Linked DNA regions of Homo sapiens. The protein of the gene in region 4 purifies or fractionates together with the protein of the main gene of each other region. This does not show direct contact. Each region holds a gene or a part of one and is shown on either strand. Other genes may lie near its edges. The genes, in order: ZMYM1, PRMT3, ACVR1C and GTF2IRD2B.

What was found.
Region 1: the proteins of GTF2IRD2B (region 4) and ZMYM1 purify together in Homo sapiens (affinity purification with mass spectrometry; one large-scale study listed by BioGRID and IntAct). This does not show direct contact.
Region 2: the proteins of GTF2IRD2B (region 4) and PRMT3 purify together in Homo sapiens (affinity purification with mass spectrometry; one large-scale study listed by BioGRID and IntAct). This does not show direct contact.
Region 3: the proteins of GTF2IRD2B (region 4) and ACVR1C purify together in Homo sapiens (affinity purification with mass spectrometry; one large-scale study listed by BioGRID and IntAct). This does not show direct contact.

Annotation. Positions count from the first base shown.
Region 1 is NC_000001.11:35,082,731-35,091,180, reverse strand, and holds part of ZMYM1 (zinc finger MYM-type protein 1), read right to left. Parts: intron 2,433-8,450; exon of another isoform or gene 2,022-2,432; coding exon of another isoform or gene 2,006-2,021; intron 1-2,005.
Region 2 is NC_000011.10:20,499,838-20,508,287, reverse strand, and holds part of PRMT3 (protein arginine N-methyltransferase 3), read right to left. Parts: intron 1-8,450. UniProt on the Homo sapiens protein: Protein-arginine N-methyltransferase that catalyzes both the monomethylation and asymmetric dimethylation of the guanidino nitrogens of arginine residues in target proteins, and therefore falls into the group of type I methyltransferases.
Region 3 is NC_000002.12:157,619,508-157,627,957, forward strand, and holds part of ACVR1C (activin receptor type-1C isoform 1 precursor), read right to left. Parts: intron 1-8,450. UniProt on the Homo sapiens protein: Serine/threonine protein kinase which forms a receptor complex on ligand binding. The receptor complex consists of 2 type II and 2 type I transmembrane serine/threonine kinases.
Region 4 is NC_000007.14:75,144,707-75,152,520, reverse strand, and holds the end of GTF2IRD2B (general transcription factor II-I repeat domain-containing protein 2B), read right to left. Parts: intron 4,828-7,814; coding exon 3,224-4,827; 3' UTR 2,704-3,223; downstream 1-2,703.

The DNA.
Region 1 (8,450 bases), on a different chromosome or scaffold from region 4:
CAAGGGATTTGAACTCTGGTCTCAAGCAATCCTCTTGCCTCAGTAAAACTATATTCTTTTATTACCCCCACAAACCTGTTTTACAGATATTCCTTTTTTTTGGTAAATAGCAGTGTCATATACCTAATTTCCCATGCCAGAAATCTAGGATTAACCTGGAATTATTCTTCTTCTCCCTAAATCTAATTATGAAATTAGATCAATCTACCTTTTAATTAAGTCTTTTTTTTTTTGAGACAAGAGTTTTGCTCTCGTTGCCCAGGATGGAGTGCAATGGCGCGATCTCAGCTCACTGCAACCACAGCCTCCCAAGTTCAAGTGATTCTCCTGCCTCAGCCTCCCGAGTAGCTGGGATTACAGGCATGTGCCATCACGCCTGGCTAATTTTGTATTTTTAGTAGAGACAGGGTTTCTCCATGTTGGTCAGGCTGGTCTCGAACTCCCAACCTCAGGTGATCCGCCCACCTCGGCCTCCCAAAGTGCTGGGATTACAGGTGTGAGCCACCACACCCAGTCAAATAAGTCTTAAGTCTATTTTCCCATCACACATGCCTGCCTGCTTCTCCTCACTATCCAAATCAATAGATTCCTTTTTGGTCAATCTTACAACTTTTGAGGAACTACGAAAGCAAGGTCTCTTTTTCTTTTTTCATTAAAGTTCTGGGGTGTATGTGCAGAACGTGCAGTTTTGTTATATAGGTATACACATGCCATGGTGGTTTGCTGCACCCATCAACCTGTCACCTATATTAGGTATAGCTTCTAATGCTATCCCTCCCAGCAAGGTCTCTTTTTCAAAGACAGATTGGTTCCTTCTTTTCTCCTTTTTCCTTGACTGAGGCCTACTTTCCACTTATCTGGTAGCTGTTACCTCTGATTCTAAATCCTTTGGAACCCTTTCCCTTCCTGCCACCCTAGCTTGGCTTCAGAGTGCAAGTCTTCCTGTCTCCTAGATCCTTAAAAAAGAGCCTTATAGGCCAGGCTCGGTGGCTCACGCCTGTAATCCCAGCACTTGGGGAGGCCGAGGTGGGTGGATCACGAGGTCAGGAGATCGAGGCCATCCTGGCTAACATGGTGAAACCCCATCTCTACTAAAAATACAAAAAAATTAGCCGGGCGTGGTGGCAGGTGTCTGTAGTCCCAGCTACTCTGGGAGGCTGAGGCAGGAGAATGGCATGAGCCCGGGAGGCGGAGCTTGCAGTGAGCCGAGATCGCGCCACTACACTCCAGCCTGGGCGACAGAGCGAGACTCTGTCTCAAAAAAAAAAAAAAAAGAGCCTTATATCGGGCACCTGTAGTCCCAGCTACTCGGGAGGCTGAGGCAGGAGAATGGCGTGAACCTGGGAGGCAGACCTTGCAGTGAACCAAGATCATGCCACTGCACTCCAGTCTGGGTGACAGAACAAGACTCCATCTCAAAAAAAAAAAAAAAAAAAAAAAAAGCCTTACAACTAATCATTATGGAGGGCAGATGATAACTAACACAAATGTGGAGAAGTTGAAGTTGTTACAGGATCACTTAGAATAATGGGCTCAAAAAAAGAAAAAAATAACAAAAAACCTCTTACAGGAGTAATTCCAGGACTATGGTTTTATTCTGGGTTAGTACATGAAAGACCCAAGTAATTCTGCCATTATTTTTTATTTCTGTGATTGGGGCTCAACCACCTTCCCTCATTTCCATCTTTAGCTCAGCTTTTGTTGAAAGTTCCTATCCCAATGCAGAAAGTTAAATAAGGCCTGAGAGTCAAGTGCAATAAATAGCTCATACAGCCTCTGTCCAGCCCATTTGAGCATTATACACAAACAGTAAAGCAAAACTCACTAAAAATTAACTATTTGTCATTAGGTAGATTCCCTTCACCTGAAAGTACACATGCCATGCAAGTCTTAAACATCAATTAAAAACAAAGCACCGAGTTTTGTGCAGTGGCGGTATCACAGCCAATGAGGTTTACGTGAGGTACAATTATTGTTATTCGTAAGATAAAACAAAACAAAGTACCTATGAGCTTTGGCATCTTGCAACTCCTTCAAATGTGTCACCATACAAACATAAAAATAGTGGAGGCTGGGCGCAGTGGCTCATGCCTGAAATCCCTGCGCTCTGGGAGGCTGAGGTGGGTGGATGAGGAGGTCGGGAGTTCAAGACCAGCCTGGCCAACACAGTGAAACCCCATCTCCACTAAAAAATACAAAAAATTAGCCGGGCGTGGTGGTGGGCGCCTGTAATCCCAGCTACTCGGAAGGCTGAGACAGTAGAATTGCTTGAATCTGGGAGGCAGAGGTTGCAGTGAGCCGAGATCATGCCATTGCACTCCAGCTCAGGCAAGAGTGTGAGACTCTGTCTCAAAAACAAAAAAAAAAAAAAAAAAGGAAAGCATCCTGAAAATTTCTGAGGCAAGGGAAAATGCTATGCAACATTTGTTTGGCTATAAGAAGAGCAAAACATGTATTAGTGACAGATCCATTACTTCCTTTTCCAACAAGATGCACATTAGAGTAAAATAAGTCCTACAGACTTTCTTTTAATATAGCCCTACTCATCTTTCCAAACTAGGGCTAAATCATAGTATGAAAGAGTACAGGTATTAATAGTCAAAGGATGAATGTTGCACATCTTCCTGCTGGGCAATACTACTTGGTAGTAATATAAAATATATATACATATATGTACATACACACACACACACACACACACACACACACACACACACACACACACATATATATATATATATATATACACATAAACACATTTTTGAGATGGAGTCTCACTCTGTTGCCCATGCTGGAGTGCAGCGGTACGATCACGGCTCACTGCAACCTCCACCTCCCGGGTTCAAGCGATTCTCCTGCCTGAGCATCCTGTGTAGCTGGGATTACAGGCACGTGCTACCAAGCTCAGCTAATTTTTGTATTTTTAGTAGAGACGGGTTTTCACCATGTTGGCCAGGATGGTCTCGATCACCTGACCTTGTGATCCGCCTGCCTCGGCCACCCAAAGTGTTGGGATTACAGGTGTGAGCCACCGCGCCCAGCCATAAAATATTTTAATTTAAACCAAAGAGAGAAATATGATAAGAGCAGACAACAAAATTCACATTCATTTTTTTTTCTTGAGATGGAATCTCTCTCTGTCACCCAGGCTGGAGTGCAGTGACATAATCTCAGCTCACTGCAACCTCCGCCTCCCAGGTTCAACCAATTATCTGCCTCAGCCTCCTGAGTAGCTGGGATTATAGGCACCAGCCAGCATGCCTGGCTAAGTTTTGTATTTTTAGTAGAGATCGGGTTTCACCATCTTGGCCAGGCTGGTCTTGAACTACTGACCTCATGATCCACCGGCCTCAGCCTCCCAAAGTGCTGGGATTACAGGCATGAGCCACTGCCCTCGGCCCATATTCATTCTTAAAGTAAAACACGAGATCACAAAGAAACTGCAAGTTTCGAGGCCAGGCGTGGTGGCTCACGCCTGTAATCCCAGAACTTTGGGAGGCCAACGCGGGCTGATCACCTGAGGTTGGGAGTTCGAGACCAGCCTGACCAACATGGAGAAACCCTGTCTCTACTAAAAATACAAAAAATTAGCCGAGCGTGGTGGGGCATGCCTGTAATCCCAGTTATTTGGGAGGCTGAGGCAAGAGAATCACTTGCACCCAGGAGGCAGAGGTTGCAGTGAACTGAGACTGCGCCATTGCACTCCAGCCTGGGCAAGAAGAGCGAAACTCCATCTCAAAAAAAAAAAAGAAAATGCAAGTTTCAAGAGTTATTTCCAGATACACATATAGACCTCCAGGGGATATCATCCAGATTCCTCCTGGAAAATTAGTACAATAGTATTTATATAACCCTGATGGTTCAAACTACTGTTAAAAAATGAATTTTTGGGCGGGCACAGTGGCTCACCTCTGTAATCCCAGCACTTTGGGAGCCTGAGGCAGGCAGATTACCTGAAGTCAGGAGTTCGAGACTAGCCTGGCCAACATGGTAAAACCCCATCTCTACTCAAAATTCAAAAAATTAGTCAGGTGTGGTGGCACACACCTGTAGTTCCAGCTCTTGGGAGGCTGAGACAGGAGAATCTCTTGACCTGGGAGATGGAGGCTGCTGTGAGTGGAGATCGTGCCACTGCACTCCAGCCTGGGTACGACAGAGCAAGACTCCATCTCAAAAAAAAAAAAAAAAAAAAAAAAAAGGCTGGGTGCGGTGGCTCATGCCTGTAATCCCAGCACTTTGGGAGGCTGAGGTGGGTGGATCACAGGGTCAGGAGTTCAAAATCAGCCTGGCCAAGATGGTGAAACCCTGTTTCTACTAAAAATACAAAAAAAATTAGCCAAGCGTGGTGGTGGGCGCCTGTAATCCCTGCTACTCGGGAGGCTGAGGCAGAGAATTGCTTAAACCCAGGAGGTGGAGGATGTAGTGAGCTGAGATCAAGCTCACTGTCGCTCAAGCCTGGGTGACAGTGCGAAACTGCATCTCAAAAGAAAAAAAAAGAATTTTTTAATTGAAAAAAAAATTGCATGAGATTTCAATGAAATATAAGGCAGTTACAATAATGAAAGGAAACTGCATGACGATGAATAAGATTCACAGACATATAATCTCAAAACTAATTTATATAGAGACTATTTTTTTTACTGCTACAGATTAAGTTACAATCTTGATTGGAGACAGAGTTGAACAAATTTAGCAACAAACAGTCATTTTCTGCTTTTTATAAATAGCCCAGACTGTAGTCCCAGCTACTCAGGAGGCTGAGGCAGGAGGATCACCTGAACCTGGGAGGCAGAGGTTGCAGTGAGATATGATTGCGCCACCACACTCCAGCCTGTGTGACAGAGTAAGATTCCATCTCAGAATAAATAAATAAAATAAACTAATAACCCAATATTGAAAATTTTGGGAAAAAACCTTAAAATTCTGTATATATTGAAAATTTTGGGAAAAAACCTTAAAATTCTGTATGAATATAAATATGACTTGAAGAAATGATTTTAAAAAGCCACATTATGAATGACAGTGATTTATATAATGAAATTCAAATCTTCAATATTTTCTGTGATAACAATTTACCATGAGTAACCCAAATACAATGTTTAAACGTAATACATAAAATTGAATTCTGTCATCATTGAAAATTTGCTTACTTTCAGTCCTGAAAACCACAGCTTTACACGTGTTTTTCTATTTGGTCATTACAAAGGTGTATTTGTCACGGCAGGAGGATGGAACTCATTTTATTCCACGATGTGTTAGCTTAATTTATAACTTTTAAATATTTAGACACAGAGTATGTGGGCTTCCATTCATACTCTTAGCAAGGACCCCACAAATGCTAGGGGCCAGTGTGAACCTAGCACTCCAACCACAAGTACATTTCAAAACTAGGCTGGGAATGAGGGGTACAGAATACTGATTTAACAACAATAATTCCCTATTAGAGCTAGGTGGCTGGCATGTGCCACACCAAAGGCAAGAAAGGGCAGGCCCAAGAGAGCTCTAGGAATGACTGTTCAAGGAAGGAGGCTATTGTCCCTGAAGCTGGAATGTAGTCATGGAGGTGGTTTCAGGGTCAGGAAAGGACAGCTGCAGCCAAAGGGAGATCTACAACAACCACAGGAGAAAACACTATCCTCCTCTTTGGGCCAGAGGGAAAGGGAGACAGATGTCAAGGCAAAGAATCAGCTGCACCTTAACCTCCTCACTTTACTTGTCCTCATACTGCTTTCCTTCCTGCCAAAGTCATTTCTGCCTAATCAGATCCTATGCAGTTTGGAAACCAACTGAGCTCCAGATTTTAACAGACTAGCATGAAGTAAAAATAATATGGGGGCCGGGCGCGGTGGCTCACGCCTGTAATCCCAGCACTTTAGGAGGCCGAGGCGGGTGGATCACAAGGTCAGGAGATCGAGATCATCCTGGCTAACACGGTGAAACCCTGTCTCTACTAAAAATACAAAAAATTAGCCAGGCGTGGTAGTGGGCACCTGTAGTCCCAGCTACTTCGGAGGCTGAGGCAGGAGAAGGGCGTGAACCCAGGAGGCGGAGCTTGCAGTGAGCTGAGACAGTGCCACTGCACTCCAGCCTGGGCGACAGAGCGAGACTCTGTCTCCAAAAAAAAACCAAACCAAAACAAAACAAAAAACGGATAAATCCAGGCATAACAGAGTAGCCTTTAGCATACTAAATCCTTTCACTGGAATTAATTACAAAATTTAACAGACTTTACTGGTAAGGGGACTTTCCATGACAAAATAGTGGAAACCCAAGCAGAAAACAGCAGGAGACAGTTAGAAGTACTGGATTCTAAAGTAGCTGGAACTCAAGAGGCACAATCTGGGAGAGGAGGGAACTACAGAAAAATAATATGCATAGAAATCTCCCCTCCTCCAAGTCATTGGCGGACTCCTAAACTGCACATTTACAGAGTGAGACTTCAAAAACTTAACAGAACACAGCAGTTAAACGTCAAAGAGCTAATAAGATTATAGCAGCTATGCTGAGTTGAGAGTTGAAATTTAAGACCAGCAAGATAGAGGGGTTTTGGTAAAGACCTGGATTTCGGGTTGAGACTCAAGGAGGGCCTTGCCCTAGGAGTAATGGCTATGCCCCAGGAGGAAAAGAGACCACTTCCAAGAAGAAAGGACAAACTGAAATAGACCAGTCTTAACAAGACCTATAATCAACCCTCAACAGGATCAATGTCATCTGCTACTACTATCCACGTGCCTAATGGCAACCTTAGTCTGCTTTGAAGGAAGTACATCCGGATGCTAATAATGTTCATCCAAAATTTCCAGAATCCAGTAATAATTTATGGACTAAGAGGAATTTTTAAAATCCCAAAACTGACTGGAAAAAAATGGCAATAGAAACAAACCCACAGGTGACTCAGATATTGTTCTTGTCAGGCAAGGACTTGGTTATGTTTGAGAAAACAGAGGAAAGATGGAGAAGTTCTGTAGTGACCTGGCATCCATCAAAAAAAAAAAAAAAAGTTAAATGGAAAATCTAGAATTGGAAAACACAGTGAGGAAGTTAAGAATTCAATCGATGAATATCAAATTAGTGAAGAAGACAAGCTAGAAGGTACACTGATGCACAGAGATAAAAGGATGGAAAATTGAAATAATGTGCCATGTGGGATTCCTATTCAGTTCTAGAATAAGAATCTAGAATAATGTGCCACGTGGGATCTCTTATTCAGTTCTAGGATAAGAGAAAATAGACAATGCAAAAGAAGCAGTATTTGAAAGAAAATACCAGGCAAGGTGGCTCACGCCTATAATCCCAGAACTCTGGGAAGCCAAGGCAGGAGTTTGAGCCCAGGAGTTCGAGACCAGCCTGGGTGACATAGTGAGACCCTCATCTCTACAAAGAAATTAGAAAAATTAGCTGGGCATGGTGGTGGATGCCTGTAGTACAGGCTATGTGGGAGGCTGAGGCTGGAGGATCACCTGAGCCCAGGAAAGAGTTCCAGGTTACAGTGAGCTATGATCGCACCACTGCACACCAACCTAGGTGACAGACTGAGACACTGTCTCGAAAAAAAACAAAAACAAAAAATACCTACAATTTTTTAGGACAATTTCCTAAAACTGAAGAAAAACATCAAACCACATGAATTCAAGCTCTGTGAATCACAAATAAGATATAAAGAAAAACGCGAGTAGGCATGTCATAGTTACACTGGTGAAAACCAAAAAGAAAATCTTAAAAGCACTAAGGTTGGGTGTGGTGATTCACACTTGCAATTTGAACATGTCGGGAGGTAGAGGACAGAGGACTGCTTAGCCCAGGAGTTCGAGGCCACCCCCTGGCAGCATAGTGAGACCCCCATCTCTAAAAACAATTAAAAGATTAGCTGGGTATGATGGTATGCATCTGGAGTCCCAGCTACTCGGGAGGCCGAGGTGGTAAGACTGCTTAAGCCGGGAGGGTGAGGCTACAGTGAGCTGTGATCAAGCCACTGCACACCAGTCTGGGGGACAGTGAGACCCTGTCTTAAAAAAAAAAAAGAAAAGAAACAATAAAACCCCAGAAGCCAATGTAATATCTTTAAAGTGCTGGGGAAAAATCTACTTAAAATTCTATATTCAGTAAAAATATCCTTCAAGATTAAGAGCAAAATAAAGACATTTTCAGACAAATGAAAACACTGTAGAAATGCTACAGGAAATTCTTTTTTTATTTTTGGAGACAGAGTTTTACTCTTGCTGCCCAGGCTGGAGTGCAATGGCACAATCTCAGGTCACTGCAACCTCCACCTCCCGGGTTCAAGTGATTCTCCTGCCTCAGCCTCCTGAGTAGCTAGGATTACAGGCATGCACTACCACTCCTGGCTAATTTTTTGTATTATTAGTAGAGACGGGGTTTCACCATGTTGGCCAGGCTGGTCTGGAACTCCTGACCCCAGGTGATCCACCCGCCTCAGCCTTCCAAAGTGC
Region 2 (8,450 bases), on a different chromosome or scaffold from region 4:
AAAATTGTTAAGAATTCAAGGAATACAGTGTAGCAGAAAAGTAAACAATGTATAACTAGCACTTCTTTTTATTGTGATGTTTTCCCACTTTTTAAACTTTATTTAAGGTTAATATTCTTTTTTTTTTTTTTTTTTTTTAAGATGGAGTCTCACTCTGTCACCCAGGCTGGAGTGCGGTGGTGTGATCTCAGCTCACTGCATTCTCCCAGGCTGGAGTGCACTGGTGCAAGCTTGGCTCACTGCAACCTCCGCCTCCTGGGTTCAAGAGATTTTCCTGCCTCAGCTTCCCGAATAGCTGGGACTACAGGCGCATGCCACCATGCCCAGCTAATTTTTTATTTTTAGTAGAGATGGGGTTTCACCATGTTGGCCAGGCTGGTCTCGAACTCCTGACCTCAGGTGATCCACCCGCCTCAGCCTCCCAAAGTGCTGGGAATACAGGAATGAGCCATTGTGCCCAGCCAATATTCATTTTTTAGAGCAGCATTATGTTTCATTAATTTTTTTTTTAAGACAGTCTCTCTCTGTTGCCCAGGCTAGAGTGCAGTGGTACAATCCCAGTTGACTGCAACCTCTGCCTCCCGTGTTCAAGTGATTTCTCCTGCCTCAGCCTCCCAAGTAGCTGGGATTACAGGCATGCGCCACCATGACCTGCTAATTTTGTATTTTTAGTAGAGACAAGGTTTTGCCATTTTGGCCAGGCTGGTCTAGAACTCCTGACCTCAGGTGATGCGCTCACCTACCTCAGCCTCCCAAAGTGCTGGGATTACAGGCGTAAGCCACTGCGCCCAGCCCTGTTTCATTAATTTTTGAATGAAGCGAGAACTAACTACATACCACAGTGTCAAATCCTTGTGAAAGTGAGTAAAACTATTGTGGTCATAAAGGGTCAATGGAAGCATTTTACTGAACTTCTAAATATGAGGCCCTATGGTGGGTTCTGGGCATCTAGAAAAAAGATATGGTCCCTGCCCTCAAAGAGTTTGTGATCAGGGTGAAGAAAAAAGCTATACTAACAATTACACAATAGGCATGTGTCTAAAGTGTGCTGGAGGTGAGCACTGGGGATGGTTGGAAGGCAGTTAAAGGCAAGGTTTCACAAGAATTAATGAATTACCCAATGCCAGGGCTGAAGTCATGGAGAACCAGGCTTAAGGGATGTACATGTAATGGTATTTAAGGAAAACACATACACAGAACCTTCAGGAATGGCATTTTGAGGAACTGAAAATTATAGCTGGGAAAATGTAGAGGCACATGACAAAGCCATTGGCCATTGATGCACTGGTGCTGTAAAAGGGAAACAATGTACCCATGTGAAACAGTGAACACACAAAAATTACTTACCTGTGCAAAGGCTGATTTCCTAAATTCTGTAGGTTCCAAATTTTTATCTATGTACTTTTCTAATTATAAATACTTCTCATTTAATTTTTCATTTATTTTAAAGAGCTGTTTAAAAAGTAACAAATTGCTAAGTTGTAGTTGATCACCATTCTTTGCTTAAATAATATTAAGATAACACCAAACAGTGTCAGGAATAGCTTTAGCATCTGCATGGACACAATGAGGCTCCATATAATGACCAAGGAAATCTACATAAAACTATTGAAGTACTGAATGAATATCGTATTTAAAAAAATACAAATTCCCCATATTCAAGGAAAATTATCTGAATGCTTTTCAAGATGGTAGTGAAATAACACAAGTAAAACATAACCACCTGTTATATTTATTTTCAGAATATAAAGATTCCATTACTGATACCTTCTCTACATCTTTGCAAAAAAGGTGAGACTCACAGTTTAACACATAATTAAGGAGTTAAATAATAGAAGAAATAATGTGGCCCAAGGTGCAATCCATTCAACAAAATATAACAATTTTTGTGTACGTATATATGTTAATGTGTATATTTGGCTTTAGCTTTTATATCTGACCTATTCCTCTATATTAAGAAAATGATATAAAACTATCTCATATGACATGTTCACCAATAGTGGACATAATAAAGATTACCAGTCAGATAGTTCTACAAACTTTATGGAGTTCAGGTTAATCATTAGATAATTTATGCTTATATTTATTCAACACTTACTTTGTGCTAGGCTCTACTCTAAGGTCTTTACATGATTTATCTCACTTAATGGTCACAAAATATTGCTATGAGGTAAGCGCATTTTCCTTACTCACAGATGAAGTTCAGAAAAGGTAAGTAATTTGCCCAAGGTCATCTGCCAGCTAGTGAAAGAACTAGGATTTTCAGCAAGGCAGTTTGATTCCAGAACCCAAGTTCCTCAACTATACTCTGGTGCTTCCCTATCTCTATCTAAAAAAATGATGATTATAGCTTTAAATATACTATAATGAATAAGAAATAGACCTAAATTTTACCGCCCCGTGGGTTTTGTTTTTTTTTTTTGGTAAAAATATTTACTTGTTTATAAACACAATTGATATGTAAGTTGATGTAACTATTATTCTATAATAACTAATGAACAATGATACACGTTTTCTTATCTAAGGCATTAACCTAAGGAAGAAATAAAAGATCATTAGTATATTGAACACATTTAAGATTTTCCTATTTTGACTTTTCTATTTTGGCTATTTTATTTGCTTCTTTTTAAATCAACATTTAAAAACTTCTATTTAAGTTATTTATTGACACCAAAACTGGGAACGAACAGCCACATTATGATAAACTGACAATGTTTTTGTAAATACATGACAGAGAATAGTAATTGCCAACTTGGTTATTGGGTTTAACTTACTGTTATTGAATTGCCAACACTGAATCAACAAACTTGATTTTTACAACACAGTGGCTTGTTAGTTCCTTTTTACTTACAAGCAGTATGTCTTATACAAATTACTTAATTTAGTTGCTGGTATAAAGTAGTTCACATATGAAAAGACAGATAATGGACACTTGAGATTCAAAAATAACAAAATGACCTCCAGAGACCCAACATAAAGTAAGTATTCTATTAGATGTCCTAGTCAGGACATTAAAGTGTGGAGGGAAAAAGGATACAGACTGGGGGAGGGGGAATTAAAGTTTTCATTTGCATACTACCTGGTTTTATACATAGAAAATCCTGAAGCTATATGCAAAGAAGGCTACTAGAACTATTTATTGAAGTTTAAGCAAGGTCTTATGATTTAGGATCAAGGTATAAAAATTCTATTTCTACGTACTAGCAATGAAGAATTTATATAATACTACAAACAACAGCTTCAAAAAAGCATAAAGGCTGGGTGTGGTGGCTCATGCCTGTAATACCAGCACCTTGGGAGGCCAAGGTGGGCGGATCACTTGAGACAAGGAATTCGAGACCAGCCTGGCCAACCTGGCAAAACTCTGTCTCTACTAAAAACACAAAAATTAGCCAGGCATGTGGTGCACACCTGTAGTCTCAGTTACTTGGGAGGCTGAGGCACAAGGATGGCCTGAACCCAGGAGGTGGCAGTTGCAGTAAGCAGAGATCATGCCACTGCACTCCAGCCTGGGCGACAGACCGAGTCTCAGTCGCTCTCGCTCTCTCTCTCTCTCTCTCTCTCTCTCTCTCTCTCTCTCACACACACACACACACACATACAATACTTGAGATAAATGTAACAATATATGTCTGACTTACATAAACTACAAAACAACTTTAAAGATGGTCCACATAAATGGAGAGACCCACTCTCTCGTGAGTGAAAGACTCAATGTTGTTAAGATGTCAATTTTCCCTAATCTATTGATTTAACAAAATCCCAGTCAAAATCCTAACAGGCTTTCTTAGGCCAGAAATTAATGAGCTGATTTTAAAATTTATATGGCAATATAAAGGACCTAGAATAGCCAAAACAACTGTTTGTGTAAATCTTGCCATTTTGTTCTTTTTCAATCTTATAAAGACTGTCTTAAAGGCACAAGGACAGACATACAGATCCCTGGGGGAAAATGAGAGCTCAGAAGTAGATCTATATGCATATGGTCAATTAATTTTTGACAAGGGAGCCAAGGCGATTAAATCGGAAAAGGATAGTCTTTTTAAGAAATGATGATGGAGCAAGTGAATATACATTTGGGAAAAGATGAACTATTATTAACTTTTAAATTTAACTCAATTAGATGACCACCCAATTTGAAATCAAGCAAAATATCTGAGCAGAAATCTCACAAGAAGATATAAAAATGGCCAATACACATATGAAACAATGCCCAACATCACATCAGGCAAATGAAAACTACAAGCACAGCTATAACTACATACTCAAAACGGCTTAAAATACTGCATCTTTTTTATAAGTGTTAAAAATGATGTGGAACAACTGAATTCACAATGGTGTTAGCCCTAGGGATGTTAGATAGCATAGTCATTTTTAAAAAATTTGCCAGTTTCTTATAAAGTTAAATATACACTTACCATAAGACCCAGTAATTCCACTTCTAGGTACTTACCCAAGAGAAATGAAAACATCTGTCTGCACCAAGACTTTTACATGAATATTCATAGCAACTTTATTCTTAATGGCCCCTAACTGAAAGCAATACAAAAGTCTAGCAGCAGGTGAATACCTAAGTAAACTGTGGCATAGCCAAAGGAATATTACTTGGCAATAAAAAGGAACAACCTAATGATAGAAGAATCTCAAAAAAAAAAAATGCCAAGAAAGCTAGAGTACATGCTGTATAATTCCATTGATAAAAATTCTAAAAAGGTAATACTAACATATAATGACAAAGCATATCAGTGACTGTCTTGGTCTGGGAATCACGGTTGGGGACTGACCATACAGGGAATTGCAGAAGAAACTTTTTGGAGTGATGGAAATAATCTATATTTCCACAGTGGTATATGTAATTTTCAAAACTCAATGAGCTGTACAATCAAAATGTGTGAATTTTGATTATATGTAAATTATTTGTTTAAAAATGTGGTGCCTAGGAATAAACACAGACAAATGAGAGAAATAAGATCAATTATGAAGACTCAGTACATAGTAAGTGGAGCATTTTAAGTCACTGAGGAAAGGATTCAATACATTGTACAAAAGTAGTAATATAATCTTTTAAAGGATGAAACCAAAGCCAGACACCAAAAGCAAAAGGTTGACAGATGTGACTATAAAAAATGAAAAAAAATTCTATAAAGCAAGATAGTTTAAAGAAAGAAAAGCAAATTAAAGCAGTGTCTTTGTGTAACAAGTATTTTTTAAGTCTGAATTTTGAATTGATTCTTTAGGATGGATTATCAGAAGTATAATTCCTTCATAAAAGGTATGAAATATATTCCAGTGTTACATTCCTGCCATCTTCATCAACAAAAGAGTAAATGAAAAACAACAACCAAAACGTGATTGCTCTGATTTGTATTTCAAATCAGAGGAGATAAGTACTATTTATTTAACTACCATCTAAAAAATCTGGTGCATTTACCTTACTTCTTTTCTCATTGAAGCATATGAGGTATTGCTAGTAAATATTTCATTTTTGTACATTTGTTCTGATGGTTGCTGCTCTTTCATTTACATTGCCTTTTGAGTGTTAAAAATATGTAAGCTGTCTTGTTTATAGAAGTCCTATTCAATCCTTAGTGCAAGTCAAAATAGAAATGTTCCATAGTGCTTATAAATCTGGTTATCATCTTCATTTCAGGATCAAAGGATGTACCTATAAGAGTTCTATGCATTCCTCAGTTTAGAAATAAAAAACCCCAGTCAAAATGAATTAGTAATGGATATTTGTTAATTTTTCACAAAAGAAAAAATGCTAAGCATCAATATAGCAGCTGAAAAATTAACATAATGTCATATATATAAGCTGATGCTGATAACCATGATTTTCATTTCTTAAAATGAAATACAGGTAAATCTTTTCCATAATCATATTTCAAAGATGAGGGTGCACACACAATCATTTAAGTTAATTAAGTAGCATGAAGGGTCACAGTAATAAATACATAATTCACACTGCTGATCTCCCTTCAATTGTTCAGACCTAACTAAAGTGCCAAGGCAGTGGCTATAATACCAGAATGAATCAGAGTAATTAATCAGTGTCAAATAGATATAAAATGACTGATGTTGTTAAGTGTGTGCACTGTGGTGAGAGCTGGAAGGAACACTCTGGAGCTGAGCCGCATGGACTTGTTTTTTATCATCAGCAGACGGCTGTTAGTATATCACAAAGCAGTGCCGTAGTTCAAGAACAAAATTGACTTCATTTTAATTGTTACAGTGTATTTTTTAGAATTAATTTCTTCCGGAGCAATGAAACTTCATTTCCCCAGAAAAAGGAAAGAAAAACACAACAAATCATTATTAATTGTTGTCAAAGCTTAGAGTTTAAAAATGAAAGAAAAAAATCCCAGATTATCTATCATATAAAAGCTTACTATGTACTGTATGGATAAATAAAGAGAAATAGCCTGATTTTATATTTTCAAAGCCAAATCACATTAAAAAGATTTGAATTTTAAAGTACTGCCATATTTACTTACAATAAAAGTTTGTACAATAAAACTGTACATGAATTGTAAAGGGAAAACCCACCCTGAATTCAAACTTTAAGTGTCCTCATCTAGGCAAAATAACTCTATAGTTCCATTTACAATATTTTACTTATCTTGTCATATTACCTTCTGGACACTAAAATAAGCTTTACATACAGTAATTTTTCCAAACTAGACTCATAGCTTCATTTATTTTTATCTAAAAATCTTATAGTACATTGGGTCAAAAGCTACTTTTAGTTTCAATATAACTATAGAGAACTCTTTTTCAGCCACACCAAGGTAAGTTTGAATATTAACCTGCTCAAGTGCAATAGTATGATGAAATTTCTGGTAACACCAGAGTTGGCAAAATTGGCCATCCAAATATGGACACTAGATGACCTTGGCATAGTGTTACCCAAGGTGATGGAGAAAATTGGATTTCAATGACAATATATATTATTGTACTTATTCATTTATTCAGCACAGTATGTCAAATACTACATCACATCAAGAAGGAATGAGGGAGGCACACTAAGATGTTGAACTTCTATTAGAACTCCAGTACACTAAGATGTTGTAACAAATGTGTATATGAATTTATCTGGGGAATCAAGAAAGGGAACAATTAGCTCTGAAGACATTTAAATTTTACAGAAATTAGCTATGTCATGAAGGGTAAATTGGAATTTATCAAGTGAAAGAGGTCAAAACAACCTTCTAGGTAGAAAAACATCTTGGACAAAAGCAAGAAAAATAAAAGTTAGCTTAAAAATGAGCAATCTGTACAACTGGAGTACATGAGCTTACCTGGGGTTGTGAAAGGATGGGGTTGGAAATGATGAAAAACCAGAGTCAGACTGCAAAGGGACATAGGAGTTTGTATTTTATCCTGAAGATATTGACTGTCCAGTGAGAAGTTTAAAACTAACTTTACGGTGTTACTTACATAAAATGTGTTCGAATGTTGCCACTATCTTAGTTTCATAAACCACTCCAAAGTCTCAAATATTATTTCTTCCAGAAGTTTTACAGTCTAAGCTTTTAGATTTGTACCTATGATCCACTTAGTTTTTATGTATGTTAGTTTTTGGATATGGTGTGAAGAATGATTTTCTCAAACAAATATTTACTTGTTCTAGCACCATTTCAAAAGATCACCCTTTCCCCATTAATCAACACTGCCCCTTTGTAAAAATTTAATTATACAAGAGCAGGTCTATTTCTGGATTATTTGTTATACTGACTTACATGGCTACAATAAACACCACTACTATACTGCCTAGATTAATATAACCTTTTGGTAAGTTTAGAAATAACACAGCATAAAGATTCCAATGTAGTTCTTTCTCAATTATTTTGGTTATTCTAGGCTTTTGATTTCTATATAACTTTTAGAATTAGCCCATTAATTTCTACAAAACTGAGATTTTGACTGAGATTGCACTGAATTAATAAAGGAAATTCTTCTATGAAGAAGTAACACTGTAACAGTATTAAGTGTTCCAATTCAGAGTATATCTCTCCATTATTTAAGTTTTCTTTAATTTCTCTGAGCAATGTTCTATAGTTTTAAATATACAAGTTTTGCATATATTTTGTTAAATTTATTCCTAAGGTTTTAATTTTTCTTGATGCTGCTGTAAATGGTATTGTTTTTTAAATCACAAGTTCAATCATTCATTGCTCCTCCAGGAGCTCTCGCTGTCTGTGCTGATCCCTGCCTAGGTTTCAGGCTATCTGGATTCCAGGCTGGGGGATATTGGAAGAAAACATAAATTTACCACAAGTTTGCTGGTACTTAGAATTCCGGTCTTCTCCTCCCAATTATTTGCTATTACTTTTCAGAGATCTTGATGGCTGCTCCATATACTCTGGTTTTATAGCTACATTTGGCGGGAAAAATTGGATAGAATGTGCTGTTATCACATTACCTGGGACCGGAATTTCAGTGCCTTTATA
Region 3 (8,450 bases), on a different chromosome or scaffold from region 4:
ATAAGGTTTTATTGAAATGCAGCAACACCTATCTGTTTATGTATTGTCCGTGGCTGCTTTCATACTACAAAGGCAGAGTTAAGTGGATGCAACAGTAACTATTTGTTTCACAAGCCTAAAATAGGATAAACTCTGACCCTTTGAGAAAATGTTGCCAACACTTGATATAATGTACCTGCTAAAGAACCTGGAATAAAAAGCAATAACTTAAACCTAAAGAAAGCGGATGAAGAAAATAATGAAGAGAAGAAAATAACTGACAACAAACAGAGAAAATAAATAAAACCAAAAGCTATTTATTTGCAAGAAGTCAATAAAATTGATAAACCTCCGGCTAGACTGATCATGGTAAAAGGAGAGAAAATTCAAATTCCCTATTTCAGAAATATTAAAGGGGCCATCACTACAAATCTTACAAATATTAAAAGGATAATAAGGAAATGTGGCAAAAAAAAACTTCATGGTAATGGCAATATCCAAAGCATAGTTGAGTAAAAGCCATTCTGGGGAACATCATCTTGATTTGGCACAATAACTCTCTATACTTCTAAAGGGGTCCAGTTGTTTTAACGAAGTCAACTTTCTTCTCTCTACATAAGGGAATGCCTTTTCATAGAACATAGCTAAAGAGTAGCTGTAGGAAATAAAGATTTTCAAAAAGAGTTTCATTCAGTTATACATTTATTATTCTATAAGGAATCTTCTGCTAATTATATAATTATTCTGTATTCAACCTGTCAAATTTTGTGTAATGTCTATTTTCTGGAAATACAAATGACAGATTGCAAGTAGAATTTAAGTGAGAACACAATCTCACCATGACTATCAGAGCAAGCAAATGTCCACAGAATAGAATTTTTACTCTTGGAGAACGAAAATGGAGATGATAGAGAAAAAAAAGATACACTTCCAGGGGAGTAGGCCAGGAAAATGCCATCGGATAAAGTTGTGAGATGTGATTACTTAATACTCTTTAATATATTTTGGCTCTGTTGTAAAACAATCTGGTTTTTTTAAGCTGTAGTAATCCGGATTACCAGTTTCTGAATTAACATCTCTTGGATACGTATGCATTAAAAAAAATTTATATTTGTTGTTTTTAATTATTTTTTAATTGACACATAATTGTATATATTTATGGGATACAATGTGATGTTTTGATACATGTATACAGTGTCCAATGATCACATCAGGAGAATTAGCATATCCACCACCTCAAACATTTATCATTTCTTTATGTTGAGAACATTCAAAATCTGGTCTTCTAGCTATTTGAACATGTCCATATCCTGATGAGTTAGATTTTTTTTCTAGTCCCGTTTTTGATCATAGAGTCTTTATTTCAGTCAATTATCAAGTTGCATAAAAAAAGGTATAAGGTGCTTAATCAATATGCAGAGATGTAGCATCCATCCCTGTCTTTTTATTAACCATGAGATAACAACGACAAAATAGATTGGGAGAAAATGTGTGTTTCACTTTCAAAATGGGAGCATCCTAATGATTTTCTTGAAGTGAAAAGTTTAATGAAAAAGTGGATTGATCTAATTTGGGATGTTTAAGTCATTGGCAAATTTAAATTGTTTTAAAAAAATAATAATAAGCCAAGCTCTTGAGTCATACCTAGTGAATCACCCATGAATTCTTGAGATTAATTTAAAACAGCTCCAAAGAAACAGTATCTTTGCATGCCTACTGTCTAAAAGACAGAAGAGAACAACAGAAAGTAGAAGCTATTCTAGAGGAAAAAAAGTGAAGAATCAGGACACAGCAGAGCCGTGTTAGCCTGGCTGGCCAATCAGAGCAGTGAATTCAAGGGGCACATCATGAGGCAATGGTAGCCCCTGAGAAGGAGCAAAGTGTTGGCTTCTATGTAAATAAGGTCTTCCTTGTCTGTTTCATACTCCCACCCACCTCCTCCATCCTTTTACTTTTTACTGGATCCCTAAGTAGGAGGAGTAGTGATTTGTATTGTTCGGGTTTCAGGGAACCAAGTGGCCCACATGCTTTAGGGATCCAGCTTTCAAAGAACAAGAAAAACAAGGGGCTCATGGTCATGGCTATGTCTTCCTTCTTTTCCACAGCAAGTGTGGGAAGGGTACAACCTGCTTCCTTGGTAGAAGAGATCCCGCCACCTCTTTCCACAGACTTTCTACTTTTTCCCTCACCTAGCAGTCGCCCCTGAAATTATTGCCTGGAACTCCTGCCAGTTTCCATGAGACCTGGACTAATGCGAGGTATTGCAAATAGAGGTCCCTTGCTCCACAGCCTCTATGGCTTCATTTTGCCAGGACTGAATAGCCTTTCAATGGTTTCCTGGAGTTAGAATCCAGGGTTCGGGTTTATCACAGCTCCTCTACCTTTATCCTTGGGCTATTTAGTTGTTGAAAAGAAGAGCGTATTCAAGTTTGCCATGCTACTGGGGACAAAAGCTCCAGGTAATAAGAAAAAGTTACTTTGCCTTGTTTCACCTCCTTTTTCTAGATGTCACCTCTTAACTGAAGATGAGACTCAGCAGCTAGTGTTTGGGTATTCCTAGGTCCCATTAGCAAAAGAGTCATTTGTGTATCATTTATGAACATATCTCAATTTCTTAAACATACTATCCCAATTTCTTCAACAAGGTAAGGATAAATCTTGAGATTTTGACTATTGACTGTGAAAAATATAAGACTTAGAAGACCAAAGCAATGGAAAACCAAGAAGATACTATAAGGTATAACTAATGACGTTCTTCACAGAAATAGAAAAAAAAATCCTAAAATTTATATGGAACCACAAGAGACCCAGAATAGCCAAAGCTATCCTAAGGAAAAAAGGACAAAACTGGAAGAATCCCATTATCTGACTTCAAATTATACTGCAGAGCTACAGTAACCAAAACAGCATGGTACTGACATAAAAACAGACACATAGACCAATGCAACAGAATAAAGAACCCAGAAACAAATCCACACACCTACAGTGAACTCATCTTTAACACAGGTGCCAAGAACATACACTGGGGAAAGGATAGTCTCTTCAATAAATGGTCCTGGGAAAACTGGATATCCATATGCAGAAGAATGTAACTAGACCCCTATCTCTTACTATATACAAAAACAGTCAAATCAAAATGAATTAAACACCTCAAACTATGAAACTACTACAAGAAAACATTGGGGAAAATCTCCAGGACATCAGTTTGTGCAAAGATTTCCTGAGTAATAGCCCACCAGCACAGATGCCCAAAGCAAACATGGACAAATGGGATCACATCAAGTTAAAAAGATTCTGCATGGTAAAGGATACAATCAACAAAGTGAAAAGACAATCCACAGAATGAGAGAAAATATTTGCAAACTACCCCTCTCACAAGGGATTAATATCCAGAATATATAAGGAGCTAAAATAACACTGTAGGGAAAAAAAATCTAATAATCCAATAAAAAAATTGACAAAAGATTTGAATAGCCTTTTCCCAAAAGATGACATACAAATGGCAAACAGCACATGAAAAGGTGCTCAACATCACTGATCACCAAAGAAATGCAAATAAAAACTACAATGATATCATCTCACCCCATTTAAAATGGCTTACATTCCGAAGACAGGCAATAATGAATGCTGGCAAGGATGTGGAAAAAAGCGAACATTTGTACACTGTTGGTAGGATTGTAAATTAGTACAACCACTAAGAAGAACCCTTTGGAGGTTCCTCAAAAAATTAAAACTTGAGCTACCATATGATCCAGCAATCCCACTGATGGATATAACCCAAAAGAAAGAAAATTAGTATATGGAAGAGATCTGCACTTCCATGTTTGTTGTAGCCCTATTTACAATAGCTAAGATTAGGAAGCAACCTAAGTGTCCATCAACAGACGAATGGATAACAAAAATCTGGTATATATACACAATGGAGTACTATTCAGCCATAAAAAAGAATGAGATCCAGTCATTTGCAACAACATGGATGGAAGTGGAGATCATTATGTTAACTGAAATAAGCCAGGAACAGAAAGACAAACATGACATGTTCTCACTTATTTGTGGGATCTAAAAATCAAACTCATGGTCAGAGAGAATAGAAAGCTGGTTAGCAGAGGCTGGGAAGGGTAGTAGGGGGTTGGTGGGGGAGGTGGGGATGGTTAATGGGTACAAAAATATGGAAAGAATGAATAGGACCTACCATTTGATAGCACAATAGGGTGACTATAGTCAGTAATAATTACATATTTTAAAATAAAGAATGTAATTGGATTGTTTGTAACTCAAAGGATAAAATGCTTGAGGGGATGGATACCCCATTTTCCATGATGTGCTTATTTCACACTGCATGCCTGTATCAAAACATCTCATGTACCCCATACATATATATATATCTACTATGCACCCACAAAAATTTTTTTGAATAATTTAAATTTTTTTAATGATAAGGCATAATACATAGCACACTCTTTATGCTTAGAATTTTTCCTTTGTTTTGTTCTGTTTACTAATTATACTTGAAAATTAATTCTCTTGTTCTATTATTTATTAAAATAAACTCTTTATATATATGTCAACATAATCTGAGCTTTTTAATGATCCATGCCTGCAGTTGTCCACTTATAGGACACTACAGATCTCAAATTGAAGATAACATTAATCATTTGGTAGGTCAAGACTAAGCTAGAGCAGGAACTAAACAGCTTCAGGATGATATTTATGTATCCAAGCCCCTTCCCCAAAATCTTGTCATTGCTCTCTTAGGAACATGCTCTAAAACTTCAAACTATATCAGAATAACAGGTCCCACAGGGCTCAGCAGCCTCCTTATTCCTGCCTCTATCCAATCTCCTCTCCTCTTAACCTTATTTACGGCAAGAGATGCAAGTAGTGCCAAGAAAAGTACAACAAAGTGGGTCTTGGCTACTGCCTGAAAGCATTTCCCCAAAAGAGAAACATGAAAGTGTATTCAAAAGGAAACTACTCCAAAATCACATCTGAAAATAACCACTTCCAAAATACAGCGAACTTGGGAAAAACCAACTGCTTTCATGCAACAATCAAGGGAATCAAGAGTTATTCTTGTTTTTTTCACCCATATTTTCATGTCTAGATACTCATGTAGGATTGGAGAAAACTAGGTATCCTTTCAGGTTCACACAGAAGAGAGATATCCTGTGCAAAGAGTTGGGAGTGACACATTGGGAGATGCACATGAAGACAGTAACGGAGCTAGAACAGGCGAGGGTTTTAGAGCTGAGGACTAGAAAATAGGTCTTCACTTCTCTTTTTAATAAAAGAGCCAGAAATACATGCATCAGGAATGGTTTATCTCACAACAGGACTTCTTTTATGTTGGTTTGCAAGATAAAAGTACAGAACACCCAGTTAAATTGGAATTAAACAGCAATTAATTTTTAATATACTTGTGTTCCATGTCATACTTGTGACACACTTATACTAAAGAGGTATTCATTGTTTATCTCAAATTCAATCTAACAAGGTATTCTCTGCCTTATTTGCTAAGTCTGTGGCTCTATTTAATGCGTCTTTGAAAAGTTATCAGTAAATGCCCTTGGCTCTCAATTTTTTATCATCAGTCCATATTTATCCCCTGAACTTCAGACCCAGAAAACCAATTGCTTACTTAACATCTCCATTTCAGCATCTGAGAGGCATTTTGAACTCAACATATTCAAAACTGAGCTCCTGTGATCTGTCAGCACCAACCCTTCTCTCCCCAGACCAGCTTTTCCTGCAGTCTGCCCCACCCCAATTAAGGGTCCATTCTTCCATTGCTTGGGTCAAAAATGTAGCATCATCCTTAGCTACTCACTTTCACACCTCAAAGTCCTTTATTTTTTGTATGAGTTTAGCAATTCAGAGGAAATCTCTAAGCATAGTTTCTCCTGGGCCAGAGATGTCTTCCTTGGAACCAGGGAGCCTCTTGCCACATCTGTGTCAATCAACCAATAAATGACTATGCTTAAAGAAGGGCAAAGATGGCAACATCTTTTGCATTTATAAACTCAGTCAGCCCTGAGCTTTCACTTTCACTTCCAGCAACACTGTGGAAAACTCTTAGTGGAAACTGCTAACTATTGTTTGCAGTGGGGGTGAGGGGGTGCAGAGGGGTGCAGGGGGGTGGGGGGAAGAATTTCATTACTTGAAACCCCCACTCTCACCCTGGTTATTAAGGAAATATTTATTCCATTTTTGGAGTAACAACATAGGGCTTTCTGGACTCTTAATAATCCTTTCTGGACCAGAGGACAAAGGAGTTTCAAGAAATTAGAAGAGAATGCACAATATGTAAATCTATGTAACATCCAAATCACAGCTTCAAAGTAGAGAACTCCAGGACATTTTCTGCCACTTCTTTTTTGGGTACACATGGTGAATATTGTGAAGCCATGTCAGGTCTCTCTTATCAAACATCAAGGCATCCAGAACCTACATAACCAGAGCAACTCAGAGGAGCCTGAGTTTTTCGTTGCTCTTGTTTTTAGAGACGGTGCCTCACTGTGTCACCCAGGCTGGAGTGCAGTGGTGTGATCATGGCTCACTGCAATCTTGAACTCCTGGTCTCAAGCAATTCTGTCTCAGCCTCCCAAGTAGCTAGGACTACAGGTGTGTGCCACCAGAACTGGCTAATTGTTTTTAAATTTTTTGTAGAGATGGTGTCTCACTATGTTGCCTGAGCTGGTCTTGAACTTGCTGGCCTCAAGCAATCCTCACACCTCGGCCTCCCAAAGTACTGGGATTAGAGGCGTGAGCCACTGCACCCAGCCAGCCTGATTTTTTTAATTCCAGTCCAGACCAATAAACAGTTTTTCTAAGTCTCTACCAGCTGTTATCTTCTGAGATTCTCAAAAAGGAGCAATGGACACCCCTAAGGTGACAACAATGTGGGGAATGAGCAGCCAAAGTAAAAAAGGTTTACTGGTTTATCATGTGTTCAGATATTTAAAGTCGTAGGCCTGCTCTGCAGATCCAGATGAAAGGTGGTGCCTTCTGTCACACAGTTTCACTGACTATGTCATTACATCAAGAACAACTTCTCATATAACATTCCAACAACAGCAAGTACATGTCATAAATGGCCAATATGATTAACAGTATAATTTGTAAAAGTGACCAGGTAAAAATACAGTTGGCTAACCATGTCATAAAACCAATTGAAAAAGTGAAAAGCAAAACAAAACTACCTTGAATCTTTCTACTAAATAGCCAGAGTTTTATATAAAGTTAAGAATAAATACTATAAGTAGCAATATACATTGTTAACGTGGGACACAGAGGGGTAAAAACTTCTTAAGGAGATTTGAAAATGATTGCACTTGACATAGAAAAGTTTTTCATAAAAGTTCAGCTTCAATAAATACATCTCTACTATATTATTCCATATCATGCATTTTTCTTAGACTTCAAATTTTAAGTGAGCGACTTTGAATGGATTATCTTTTTTTTATTTTTTGCATATTTCAATGTCAAAAGTTTCCATGCCTTTTCAAGAACATGAGGCATGTTGCTATGCTCAAGGTCTCTGAAATTTTCTAAAGATTCTGGGTATACAACAAAATATACCCTTGAAGCTACATTTTAAAAAAATTGAATCTGTTTTGTAGAAATGTGTGCAGCCAAGTTATCAGCTCCTCCAAATAAAAAGAGTTGTACAGACAGCCTCCAGAGGCAGTTTCACCCCATCAAAACTGTGATACCTTGAAGACTTTTTTTTGTAAACTCTATTAAATTGTCAAGAGCACTTTCAGTATCCCAAGTTAGCAGAGTTTTCACCCATTTTTTAAAGACTTTCCCATAGTTGGTTTTCTCCCACTTATAAATTTATTAACTCTAAATGCAAATATTTCACTTTATCCCATCATCTTTCCGACAGTCTTGGGCTGTTTTCCTAAAAGATAACTGGAATGTTTTAATCCTCAGATTTTGTCAATTAATCCTTTTCAATAATCAAATTTATATTTGAATATTGTATTTAGTGATTCTCTCAGGCCATCTGAAACACTGAAATCTGTACATGACAGCAATCATATCATTCAAATCATTCTCTTGCACATGTCACTAAGAGGAAAACGACCCACCATGAATATAGCTATTAATGTCAAACAGATTGTCATCTGGGAAAACAAAATGCATCAAAATCAGCTTCGGACAAAACACAGCTCTATGGGAAAACACCAGATTTTTATGTGCAAATGTCTTCAATGTCTGATAGAAATTTTTAAAGAATGAGTTAGCAAAGAATCTGCTCCTCCTCTGCATAATCCAGGACAATGTAATGAAAATAGTTTTCGAGGTAAAGGGCTTTTAGTCACAGCATATTATGATTTTACCAAAGATGCATTTGCCCCACTTTCTAGTAAACATTATAAAGAAACGTCTGGCTTCTAGATTGGGTAGAGGGCTCTATTTAGCCTATCAAGGCACAGACCTGTTATAAACTCTGGGGCGCTTGCCAG
Region 4 (7,814 bases):
CCTGTGATCCCAGCACTTTGGGAGGCCAAGGCGGGTGGATCACTTGAGGTCAGGGGTTCAAGATCAGCCTGGCCAACATGGTGAAACCCCGTCTCTACTAAAAAATACAAAAATTATTCGGTTGTGGTGGCGCATGCCTGTAGTCCCAGCTACTCGGGAGGCTGAGGCATGAGAATCACTAGAACCCGAGAGGCGGAGGTTGCACTGGGCCAAGATCACACCACTGCACTCCAGCCTGGGCGACAGAGCGACACTCCATCTCAAAAACAAAAAGTGAAGCACATGGACTTTGGAGTCACATGGACCCTGGTTTGAATCCTGACAACTCCTATAATGGCTGCGTGACCTGGAGCGAGCCACTTAGCCACTCTGAGCTTCAGCTTCCCGTCTATGAAAGGGGGCTGCTCTGGTCCTGCTGCTCGGCCACACCTCTGATATGTGGTGTGAACGAGTGCTCACTTCCACCAAGACCTGGACTCCCCTCCAACTCCCATTATAAACCAGCCTATCTGGGATTCCTTCTCCAAAAGAGCGCTGAGCTTGCCAGAGCCAGCTGTACCTGAAGTCAACGACAGGAACTGCCTGGAGTGGGGTCATTTCCCTGTGTCTAAGGATAGGCACCTGGGCTCCAACTGGGCTCCTGGCCTGGGGGTTGCTCTCTCCCTCCTGCACCCCCTGTCATTTTTATCAAAGTCCTTTTCTCCATTGCTTCCTGAGTGGGTCATTAGGTGGAGATCCACAGCCTTCCTCCACGCTGGTCGCGTGAATTCCCCCAATCTGGAAAGTATTCACAATTTTGTGTCACTAATTCCAGTGACTAATAGAGATTACACACACACACACCTTCAAATGACAACCTGCCAGGAGAAAAATGCTATAAAGGGAAAGATATCACTTTGGGAAGCTGAGGCGAGTAGATCGCTTGAGCCTGGAAGTTTGAGACCAGCCTGGGCAACAAAGGGAGACCCTGTCTCTACAAAAAAAAAAAAAAAAAAACTCCACAAAAATTAGCTGGGCATGGTAGCATGCACCTGTAGTCCCAGCTACTTGGAAGGCTGAGGTGGGAGGATCACTTGAACCCAGGAAGCAGAGGTTGCAGTAAGCCAAGGTCGCACCACTGCACTCCAGCCTGGGTGACAGAGCGAGCCGATTTCCTTGTTTCCAAAAATAAAAAAGGGAAAGATATTATTGGGTCAACAGAGAAAACTAGAGTATGAACAGTAAACTGGATAAAATAATTGCAACAACGTTCAGTTTACTGAAGTTGGTAAAGGAAACGTTATTGTGTAAGAGAATATCCCTGTTCTCTGAAAATACTCACTGAAGTATTTAGGGGTAAATGATATACGTAACTTTCCCTTGAACGGTCCAGGAAAAAAATGCACATCCATTTATACACATATCATAGATACTCATAGACATTTGCTTATACACACTTACCATAGGTACTGATTATAGATACACATACACACATATGAGTGAGAGGGAGAAGGAGGGAAGGGGGTAGGGAGACAAAGTGATCCAATAATGAAACAAGGGTGAAATGTTAACAATTGAGAGTCTGGCTAAAGGGCATGTGAGTATTTTCCATACTATTTTTATTTTTGCAACTTTTCTTTTTTTTTTTTTGAGACAAAGTCTCACTCTGTCGCCCAGGCTGGAGTGCAATGGCACAATCTCGGCTCACTGCAACCTCTGTCTCCTGGGTTCAAGTGATTCTCCTGCCTCAGCCTCCTGAGTAGCTGGGATTACAGGCACGTGCCACCATACCCGGCAAATTTTTGTGTTTTTAGTAGAGACAGGGTTTCACCATGTTACCCAGGCTGGTCTCGAATTCCTGACCTCAAGTGATCCACCCACCTTGGCCTCCCAAAGTGCTGGGATTACAGGTGTGAGCCACATGCTTGGCCACAACTTTTCGGTAACTATTCATAGTAAAAAGCAAACAAAAAAACCCCTCTAAACCTTAACTTACTTTGTCTAACTTTTATAGACAAAGTCTACGTTATTTGCTCTGGGGTTTTCCATTTTAAACCTGACCTTTCTGGCTCTGGGTTTTTCCATTTTAAACCTGACCTTTCTGGTTCCAGGTGAAGGCAGAGACAGATAACATAGGATTATTGTATGTCAGTATGTTTTCAACTATTTCTCCTGAAACTTGGAAACATATTAGACCATGTGGGATACCACGCGGACGGGAACGGGGGATAAATGTGTGTTCATATATACTCCTCCACAAATATACATGTCTCAGGCTGGGCGCAGTGGCTCACGCCTGTAATTCCAGCACTTTGGGAGGCCAAGGCCGGCAGATCACTTGAGGTCAGGAGTTTGTGACCAGCCTGGCCAACATGGTGAAACCCTATCTTTACTAAAAATACAAAAATGAGCCGGGCGTGGTGGTGGGCACCTGTAACCCCGGCTACTCGGGAGGCTGAGGCAGGGGAATCACTTGAACCCGGGAGGCAGAGGCTGCAGTGAGCCCAGATCGCCCCATTGCACTCCAGCCTGGGTAACAGAGTGAGACTCCGTCTCAAAAAAAGAACCCCCAAAACCAAAAAGCAAATATACACGTCTCTCTCCCTATTTCTCTGTTGATTGATTTAAACTTCAAGATGCCAACTACAGTGCCTATCAGGGTGGCAGGCAGGTAATGTGAATGAATGAAACAAGCCAGGCATAAGAAAAGTCAACTACCAATAATACAATAAAACTTTCTTGATTTTTAATGAATAGTGAGGCATACAATGTAATATAAACAAGTATGATACTGCAGATTATATTTCTGATTCAAAGTGGAAAAAAAACTGAAAAAAAAAAAAAGTTTAAGAACTCATTTTGTCAGCTGGGCACAGTGGTTCATGCCTGTAATCCCAGCACTTTGTGAGGTCGAGGCAGGTGGATCACCTGAGGTCAGGAGTTGGAGACCAGCCTGGCCAACATGGTGAAACCTCATCTCTACTAATACAAAAATTAGCCGGGCATGGTGGCGCATGCCTGTAGTCCCAGCTGCTCGGGAGGCTGAGGCAGGAGAATCGTTCGAACCCAGGAGCTGGAAGTTGCAGTAAGCCGAGATCACGCCACTGCACTCCAACCTGGGCGACAGAGCAAGACTCCATCTCAAAAAAGAAAAAAAAAATTCATTTTGTCATCTCCCAATCCCTTGGGACTAGAAGACTCCAGCCTTTCCCACCATAGGGCCCTGCCAGGAGTTTTCTCTCCATCACGTTGCGATGTGGAGTACAGAATCCCACTGGGAATCCTTTAACTGGGAGCAGTATTTTGTTTTGCTCAGTTTCATAATGGAGAACAGCTGTTCGCAGATGTAGGTGCTCCCGAACATGGAAAGAATCTTTGCGCAATGGTGCTTGTATTTCGGGTAGCTACCCCAGAGGTACTTGTAGAATTCTGGTATTCCCACCTTGTCGTATTTCGTCTTCAGGACCGTGTTGCATTGCAGGTCGATAACCTCCATCTGGAGCTCCTCGTGCACACTGTCGATCTTCGTGGAGAACGGGGAGCTGAACAGAGTCAGTTCGCTTTCGTAGAGTTTGAAATCAGACAGCCTTTTCTGGAATTCGGTCTTGAGTTCCGCGATTTTGGGAATGTAGTTCAGGCCATCGCTTTCATTTCTGGAAACCAATTTCAGGGTGGGAAAGTGGGCCAGATTATTCCTCGTCAAATGAGTCTCCCAGAGGCACAGTTTTGCTAGGAACGCCCGGATCAGGTCATACATCTGCGTGACGATTTGGGAGTGTCCTTGGAGAGAGATGTTCAAAGCGTTCAGATGCATCGTCATGTCAACCAAGAAGGCCAGGTCTCGGATCCAATCTATGGAGCTCAGTTGAGGCAGGGGTTTCCCTCTGGATGACATGAAGGAGTCGATTTCTTCCAAGGATTCGAAAAATCTCTTTAGCACGAGCCCGCGACTGAGCCACTTAATCTCCGTGTAGTACAGGAGGCTACCATACTGGCTGTCCAGCTCATAGAGCAAGGTTGTGAACTCGCTGTGGTTCAGTCCCCGGGAGCATATCCAGTTCACGGACTTCACTACCACGTCCATGACGTGGTCCATCTTCAACTTCTGAGCACAGAGTGATTCCGGATGAATTATACAACAGATGGACTTCAGTTCCGCACCCTTGCAGAACGTCGCCACCCTGGACTTCAGTTTTGTGACAAGCCCGTTATTGGCATCCACCATCGCTGGGGTGCCAGTGGAGGCCACGCTTACTAATCTCGACCAGTTGATACAGAACTTTTTCAGGCTCTTCTCAACACGCAAAAAGATCTCGTTGCCAGATTTTGTACCCGTCATGGGCACCGTGTCCAGAAGTTCTTCGGACACATCGAAATTCTCATCGACACCACGGATGAATATGGCCAACTGGGTGGTATTATTTATATCCGTGATCTCATCGATTGCGATAGAATATGCCACAAAAGACCTGATTTTTTCACGTAACTTCTCCCATAAGTTCCCAGCTAGGTCCTCTACAGGCTGCACGGGGGATTTCTGGGTTGGACTTGGGTTTGCAAACACTTGTTTTTGCTCGGGACACTCGGTGTCTGACGAGCCTAAGAGATACTTCCTGAGCCCTTTTTTCAGCTCGTGAAGCTTCTCGTCACGCATTCTTTCCGTATACTGGTCATAATGCTTGCTGTGATTGGTTTGATAGTGGCGTCTTAGGTTATATTCTTTGGACACAGACATGCTTTGTTTGCATATGAGACATGTTGGAATATTCTGTACTTCCACGAAGAAATACGCTCTCTCCCACTTTTCTTGAAACACACGGCCCTCCTGGTCTATCTTGCGTTTTCCCACTTTTGACAGAGACAGGGAGACAAAGATATTTCACTTTTCTCTTATCACTACTATGAGGAAAACAACAGCAAATGCTTGATGACGCACGAGAGGGAGGAAGCGGGGCGGGGCAGGGCGTGGTTAACAGGAGGGTGACCCACCCTGCAGAGGGACGGCTGACCCTCAACTCCAGCAAACCGCTGCCAGGACGCCAGCTGTGGCCAGATCTTCAAGTTTTCTAAAGAAAACCTGAAGACTGAATTTTTGTTGTCGTTGTTTTTGAGACGGAGTTTTGCTCTGTCGCCCAGGCTGCAGTGCAGTGGCGCAATCTCGGCTCACTGCAACTTCTGCCTCCTGGGTTCAAGCGATTCTTCTGCCTCAGCCTCCTGAGTAGCTGTTATGACAGGTGCCTGCCACCACGCCCAGCTAATTTTTGTATTTTTAGTAGAGATGAGATTTCACCATGTTGTCCAGGCTGGTCTCGAACTCCTGACCTCAGGTGATCCGCCCACCTCAGCCTCCCAAAGTGCTGGGATTACAGGCATGAGCCACTGCACCCAGCCAGATCTTCAGGTTTTCTAAAGAAAACCTGAAGATTGACCTTTATGAAAGAGTGCCTGGTTTGTGGTGATAATGGCTCATTGCAGCCTGGAACTCCCTGGGCTCAGGTGATCCTCCCACTTCAGCTCCCAGTTGCTGGGACTACAGGCATGCACCACACCGAGCTATCTTTTCTTTCTTTCTTTCTTTTCTTTTTTTCTTTTTCTTTTTCTTTTTTTTGTAGAGCTGGAGTCTTACCTTGTTGCCCAGGCTGGTCTGAAACCCCAGGCTCAAGCGATCCACCCGCCTTGGCCTCCCAAAGTGCTGGGATTACAGGAGCCACCGTGCCAGGCCTCATCCTTATTTTCAAAAGTACATGAGCCAAACAAAAGACACCTTTGATGAGGTTCAGCATGTAGCTGTGCTTGTTATGTCCAGTTTAAACAGGAATTATTTGATAATATGTTTGCATTTTCTTTTTAGAGACAGGGTCTTGTTCTGTCACCCAGGCTGGAGTGTAGTATTGCAATTATGGTTCTCTGCTGTCTCAAACTCCTGAGTTTAAGTGATCCTCCTGCTTTAGCCTGCCAAGTAGCTGGGGCTACAGGTGTGAGCCACTGTTTCCAGCTAATTTTTAAATTTTTTGTAGAGATGGGGTCTTGCTATGTTGCCCAGGCTGGTCTCAAACTCCTGGCCTCAAGCAATCCTCTTGCCTTGGCCTCCAAAAGTCCTGGGATTATAGGTGTGAGCATTTTAATATATTTTCTCATTTGATTCCCAAGAAAACTTTGTAATAACAGAGATGGGAATGAGCACAGAAAGGCATATGATTTTTACCTACTGTGAGTCTCAAATGACAAGGGTGACGGCCACAGAACCACACAAAACTCATTCGTATAAGTGTGTTCGAGTGTACAGGGACTAGTGTTTTAGATTTAAAGAACCTGGCCACCCTGCAGGTAATCAAGGTATTTCCAGAGTACACACACATAAAAGTGCACCTTAAGAAAATGTAGGCCATGTACAGCGGCTCATGCCTATAATCCCAGCACTTTGGGAGGCTGAGGCAGGAGGATCGCTTGAAGCCAGAAGCTCAAGGCCAGCCTGGGAAACATAGTGAGACCCTGTCTCTACAAAAAAAAAAAAAAAAAAAAAATTATCTGGGCATGGCAGTGCTGTCCCAGTTACTCGGGAGGTGAAGGTGGGAGAATCACCTGAGGGCAGGAGTTCCAGGCTGCAGTGAGCTATGATCATGCCACTGCACTCCAGCCTGGGTGACAGAGTGAGACCTTGTCTCTAAAAAACCCCAATAATAATACAATAAATAAATAAAGATATTATAAAAGATCAAAAAATCATTTAGCAATCAGATGCGTTTGGGAATAAAAATGGAGCATTTTAATAGGATACTTTGGTTTTCTTTTCTTTTTTTTTTTTTTTTTGAGACAGAGTCTTGCTCTGTCACCAAACTGGAGTGCAGTGGCACGATCTCAGCTCACTGCAACCCCCGACTCCCTGGTTCAAGTGATTTTCCTGCCTCAGCCTCCCGAGTAGCTGGGATTATAGGCACGCGCCACCATGCCCGGCTAATTTTTGTATTTCTAGTAGAGACGGAGTTTCACCACGTTGTACAGAAGGGTCTCCATCTCCTGACCTCATGATCCGCCCGCCTCGGCCTCCCAAAGTGCTGGGATTACAGGTGTGAGTCACCGCGCCCAGCCTACTTTGGTTTTCAAATGTTACATTAGGAGGTTCCCTGGTGACTCATGCTCGTGAGAACACCTCTCCGTATTCTACTTGACAGGATACTGACTCACTTGCAAGGGCTCCGGGGAAGACATTAAGAATATTTAACAGGGTGGGGGCGGGGGGAGGGAGAGCATCAGGAAGAATAGCTAATGCATGCTGGGCTTAATACCTAGGTGATGGGTTGATAGGTGCAGCAAACCACCATGGCACACGTTTACCTGTGTAACAAACCTGCACATCCTGCACATGGACCCTGGAACTTAAAATAAAAGTTGAAGGGGAAAAAAAAGAGAATATTTCAGAAGCAGAGTGCCTGGGCATTGCTCAATCAGAACAGATGCTGAGCCAGGTGCAGTGGCTTACATCTGTAATCCCAGCAGTTTGGGAGACCAAGGCGGGTGGATCACTTGAGGTCACGAGTTTGAGACCAGCCTGGCCAACATGGCTAAACCCTGTCTCTACTAAAAAATACAAAAAGTAGCTGGATGTGGCGGCACGCACCTGTAATCCCAGCTAATCGGAAGGCTGAGGCAGAGAATCGCTTGAACCCGGGAGGCGGAGGTTGCAGTGAGCCGAGATCTTGCCACTGCACTCCAGCCTGGGTGAGAGAGCGAGACTCTGTCTCAAAAAAAAAAAAAAAGAAAAAAAAAAGAACAGATGCTAGTCTCAGCACTGGAAGGGTTCTAGGGGCCTCTGCTGTGCCAGGTGGAACCCCTTT